Linked DNA regions of Homo sapiens: region 1 is linked to region 2. Evidence: fine-mapped expression QTL. A gene starts in region 2. The other region holds a variant in brackets. All regions are shown on one strand. Distances are from middle to middle.

Region 1 (2,914 bases), 400 kb before region 2:
TGAATAAACTTTTTAAAAATAAGTTTTCTCTATAGCTTCCAATACCTGGACTTTGAGGGAATTGAATTAGAAAAATGTAAAGGAGATCATTCTTTCATTTAGGAATGGAAAACACAGAACCTATGATATTTTGTGTCTGTGTCCTTCGTTTTTTTAAATCCATGATAACTCATTTCATACTCTTCTTTATAATGGTATTCTTTTAAATGTACAGGTATATAAAATAAAGCCTAAAAACACAAATTGAAATCAATGTCATCCAAATGGCTTAAAACTTTGTTCTGGGTTTTTTTTTTTTTTGGTATGTTTTTAAATTTTGTTTTGTTTTTAAGAAATTGAGACAATTTTCTTTAGGTTCCATGGAAATTGGCTTCATAAAATGTGGCTGGAAAAGAAATCATCCCATATCAACATCAAGCACAGTCAAATATGAATGTATGCTTTTTGTAGCTACCTCTTTCACTATTCTTACCACTGACTTTTCACTTCCTTAACAGCAAAATTATGGGCCTTTGGCTAGGTCTGGAGCTCTTAGTAAGTTTTTATGTCTGTTCCAGGCATTCTCTGTGATTTTACGTGAGGGATTAGGGAGAAGAAAGGAGTAGAGTGGGTTATAAAATACAAAGTTAATTTGAGCATGTAAGAGTAATAGAGTGGGAGTAGAAATAGAATTCCACTCGCATGTTTAGTTTGTGTTTACTTAAGAAACGCTCCAATGCTAGATTTATTGAGAGGCCGCTTTCTGGAGAGAAAGGAGAAAAATTTAAGTAACTCACCTTAAATGACAAATGAATGCAACTTGGTTGGCAGTAACAATCTAAGGACATTGTCCCCGGTGCTAAGGAAAATCCTTCCTTCCCTCAGGCTTCATTCCTCATGTCTCAGTTAACAAGCAGTGAGTACCTGGGTGTGTTGGAACTCTGCCGAGGAGACAGATACGCTACAGACCTTTTGCCAAAAGGACTCAATCTAATAGAATCTGTGTTTCACAAATACGCTTTACATAAATCCATTACGTGCCCAGAGCCAGCTTGTTTTATAAATGCATTTTGTGAAATGCAATGGAATTAACCCAACATTTATATCTCAACCTCAAAGTACATTATGAGGATTGTAAATTTCCCAATTACAACAGATGAAAATGAACATTGTACTTATTTACTTTGGGTGGACATGGAGAGGGGAGGGGAAGAATAATTTTCTTAAA[T/G]GTTTAACCAACACCAGATTTCACTTACTGCCATTTCTAGCTTCCTATTTCATACCAACTTTATTTTCTTTGTTTTTTGTTTTTTTGTTTTTTCCCTTTCTGGATTTCCAATAAAATAACTGAAACTAGAATTCTGCTGGAAGGAAAAAAAAAAAAAAAAGGAAATTTTTAAGTCCCAAGGTGAAGAAATCGCCTAAGGGAGTCAAGAGAACATAGACAAGATTTTTTAGTTTGTGCTGCTTTGCATCTTTAAGGAGGCAATTAGTTATTCTTCTGTATTACTGACTACCCCTTTTTCTCCATAACTCATATAATACAAATGGCCTTAGAGAGGACATATTTTAAGTGGGACATTTATTATTGAACAAAAGTATGGACTCTAATTTAAAGTTACTAGGAAAGCCCTTTCAAATTTCACAGCAGCAAAAACTTGGCCGGGCTGTTCTCAACTCTCATTGCCATTTCTAGCCAAATCATTATTGACTTCAAGATAGGATTAAAGAACCTGAAAAGATAACATGAATCTGAGAGTTTTATATATTTGAAGCAACCCAATCCAAGCCAGCACAATGTTAATGCAGAGGCTAAATCAATGAGTGTAGGATGAAGCACTATGGTGTCTACACTACCAAAAAAAAAAAAAAAAGAAGAAGAAAGAAAAGAAAGACAGGTTCATCTGTTTGATGGGACTGTCAAGTTATCCAATGGGTCATTTTTGTCACAGCAGCATGTAGGAAGCACAATCAACATTGATCTAGGGAGAACTGTTGGCAAAATTAAAGATTTTACTATATGACTTTGCAGACTGAATATACACTTCATATTACCAAAAAGGAAGTTGGTTTCTGAGATCTGTCTTCACTCATTAACTATGCTTAGCAAAATCACAACTGGAATTTTTTAAGGGAGATTTTTAAGTAAACACGGTGAAAAATCCATTTATCCCAAAATCCCACCAAGAAATGAAATTAAAACATATGGAACCCCACAGAAAAGATTCATTTTCTGACCATGTATCTTTAAAACCTAAAATCAAATTGGAGAGCTTCTTTCTCAAAGTATAGATTCCTGTTACTTCCTCTTCAAGAAAGGCATACCTAAAAGGTTATTGATTTGGTTCTGAAGGACACAGTGTTTATTATGGAGGAAGCCATCACTGGGTACAAGTGTGAGAAATTAATGATGGCTTTGTAAGTGTCCATGCCGTGGTGTGGAACCAGTGGGGCAACTGTCAATCTATATGATAATACATTCCCAAACTTCATAAAATCAGTGATGTGAAAAAGCATTGATTTCTTTGTGAGCTAAACAGAATTTGTCAGAGAGAAAGAGCAAGAAGTTTACTGAAGTTAACACCTCTGCCTGCAGAGTTGCTCACACTTCAATTTGTATTTGCTTAAAGAGTTTATGATGTGATGTGTAAAATTTCTTATTTTTATTTCTGGCCAAGAATGAGAACAGAAGATACATTATGTACCTCTTTTGAATATGTAAAATATTGAAAAAATGTTTTAAAAAGAAAAACAAAGACATTCTACCTGTATATTTTAAAATAAGCATCTCTCACCTAGTTTGAACTCTGGCTTCAATACCTCCTTTGTGCCTTGCCAGCCACACTCACATACAGAGTTGCTTAGTGCTTCTAAGTACATTTCTCTTCATGTAATTCTGACTGCATTGCAACTAGTACTGTAGGAAAGAATCAGG
Region 2 (2,914 bases):
AGTTACAGAGTGAGTTCTATTTTTAAGAAAAGAGTTAGAGTTCAATTTGCATTCATTATGCTGGCTATTTTAAATAATTTTATTCCATGTGTATGCAGAACCCTCCCCTCCATTGACAAGATGCCACTTCAAGTAAGATCTAAGAGAGATATTGCTGTACGTGTCTCACAATTTTGAATAAAACAGTACCAGCAATCTCCCTCTTTCTCCATAGCCCTAAATTTATTATTAAGTAAATTTAGCAATAGCTCAATCACTGGAGCCCAAGACAGTATGTGATGCACTAAAGCACTTATATGTTTATTATCTTTTGCAAGCAACATGGGTAGTGGTGTCTATTATTGCCTCCTGCAAATCTGTAGCAATGTGATGCAAAACGGCATTTTTAAAGAAATTCTCTTTTGGAATGCAAATGATTCCTCCTGCAATTTTGAATATTTTAGCCAGCATGTACCATACAGTAGTTCTGGAATCACTGGCATCTCTCATGCTGTCAAAACTGAGTCAAATGCATTGTAATCCTGGAGAACGATAACCTTAAACAGCAATGCAACGTTAAAATGCATCCTAAAAAAAAATCCCTATAATTGCGATGAACATTAGAGAGAAACCGGCAGTCCTTCTGCAGGGAAATAACAGTCTGCTCTAGCAATCTTTCCCCTCCCCCCCTGAAACTCATGCAACTAATGATGACCTCCCGAAGTGCCGAATTTAAATGTTCCAGCATTCATCTGAGGATGAAGGAGGAAAAAAAAATACATAGAAAACCATGAAACAAGTTGTAAACTGCACAAACGCAAGGAGAGAAAGAGAACTGCAGCTGATTCAGGAGCGATTGCAGAATGAGGAGCAACAGAAAGGAAACAAGAAAGAAAGAAAAGGGGAAAAAAGCCTTAAGCATTAAAGAGTAAGAAGTGAAAAACATTTACCAGCAGCTCGGTCAGTAGCTTCGCTCCCTGACACCATCTACATAGATAACTTAGCCTAGAGTCTTCGGTCCCAGCTCGCTTTGGAGCAAAATTCCTTCACTTCGAGGGGGCAACACACACCCTCAAGAAAGAGAGAGAGAGGGAAAGAAGGGGAAAAAAAATAATCCCAAAGACCAAGACAGGCTTTCCCCCTCCTCCCTCTTACCCGCCCCCCGGACTCCCCAAACGGTGCTCGCTTCTGCACAGTTCTGCCTGCTGTGCCGCTGAGCTCGATGTTGCCGCGGCGGCTGCTGCTGCTGCTGCTGCTGCTGCTGCTGCTGCTGCTGCTGGTGGTGGTGCTGCTGCTGCTACTTCGGAAACGATTAGGAGGAGGACGCCCAAGCACGACCTGAGCCTGCGAGCCACCCAGGACCAATGTGCAACCTGCTCTGGAATCAAACCCATAACACACGCACGCACACCCAGTGACTCCTGCACGCGAGCTCTCGCGCGCACACACGCGCTCGCCCGCGCGCCGCACAACACACGCGCGCGCGCGCACACACAAACACACACACACACACACACACACACACACACACACAGAGCGCCGTGCGCCGCCCGCTAGCCCTCGCGGTCCCTGAATGGGGAGTGCGAGCCAATCCCTGGGCCCCGAGAGCGCGCACCGGCCCAGGCCGCCGGGGTTGGGTGGTGGCGCTGGGGCTGCAGCTGCTGTGGCTGCGGGGTACGCAGCCAGGGAGGGGCTCACGGCTGAGAAAGAGGGGCGCTAGGGACACGTGCACCCCTTTGTCTGCAGAGAGAACCCCAGCTGGGCGTTTCCAAGACCAGGAACTGAGCGCGCGAACCCCGGGCGGCTCAGAGTTCAGTTCGGCTCTAGGGTTAGCCTGAGGAGGCTTGGATCCCTAGCTGCACGCACCGAGGGATCCGCTCGGCACCCGATGCACCACATCTATGCACCACAGCTACACCCAGGTCTCTGCAAACAGGAGAGCACAGCAAGCCTTCGAGTCCTGCGGACGACCCGAGCCTGCCCTGGCTCTCGCGAGCATGTCCAGTGCTTGGCTGCACCCAGACCGCTTCTTCCAGGGTTAGGAACGCAGAGCAGGGCAGAGCCGAGCTCTGCAGCTTCCAGAGAGAAGCAAAGGTTCCAGAGTCTTCAGCCGCTGCTCACCTGCCTCATCTAGGCTGCCCGGTGGCTCTGAACCTGCACCCAAGGACGTAGTGATGGGGAAGCTAGATTTCCAGACGTCAGAGAGGAGTTACTTCTCTTTTTTTCATATAGGGAATCTTTGAAAAGAAACAATTCTTAGCCCAGGAAAGGCTGTTTCAGTTTACAGGGTAATTAACAGAAAATCCAGCAGGGCCTGGTGGTTTTAATAGTAACAGCTGAACAAGTATTGCTTGTTCAGCTCTGTGCAGGCTCTGTGGAATGTGTTGCCTATGAATTATCTGATTTTAACCTGTTCAGACACTGTATGATCCACCCTAGGAGGAAACCGAGGCCCCAGAATGTTACCAACTGCTAGTATATCATACCCAATACATCAAGAATCTAAACCCTGCAGTCTGGCCCTCAGTCACTGGAGACAGGATGAGGAGTGTGGATGAACGCTAGGCAAGTACAGCAAGGTAAAGGCCTGGTGGGTGTTTGGGTGATAACATCCTCTGGCCTTCAAGCTGTACCTGGCTTGTTGTCTTCAATAACCTACAAACCTTGAAAAACTGCATGCCTGAAATTTGCCAATGTCTTCATAGTACTAATATTAATAATACTTATCTCTTGATTACATACTCTTGTTCATCCTTTAATTAGGTGCCATCTTAATCTTTAAAGGAACTCTGTAAAGAAACTATCCTACCCCCCTTCTACATATGAGGAGGCTGAGACTGAGATGTGGTGTCACTTCCCTCAAGGGACAGGCCCTGAATGAAGACACTGTTTGTCCTATTGCAAGGTCTATGCTGTTTTTTACTAGAATTTGCAT

Which allele goes with the higher level. Positions count from the first base shown, and alleles are read on the strand shown. Sizes are in standard deviations (SD) of each study's normalised expression.
As copies of G replace T in region 1, the expression in liver of the gene that starts at base 1,424 in region 2 goes down (large effect, 0.87 SD a copy in GTEx).

The links.
Region 1: its variant is fine-mapped to the expression of TENM2 in liver (GTEx, PIP above 0.99).

The regions. Positions count from the first base shown.
Region 1 is chr5:167,377,318-167,380,231 of GRCh38, reverse strand. All of the region lies in intron 4 of TENM2 (teneurin transmembrane protein 2), which reads right to left. Among named protein-coding and RNA genes, the nearest start is that of TENM2-AS2, 75 kb to the right of the region's middle. The variant T/G (reference allele first, on the strand shown) is at 1,208.
Region 2 is chr5:166,977,539-166,980,452 of GRCh38, reverse strand. TENM2 (teneurin transmembrane protein 2) reads right to left here and starts at 1,424. Exons shown (of 31, transcript NM_001395460.1): 1 at 930-1,424. RefSeq lists enhancers at 1,366-1,865, 1,866-2,367.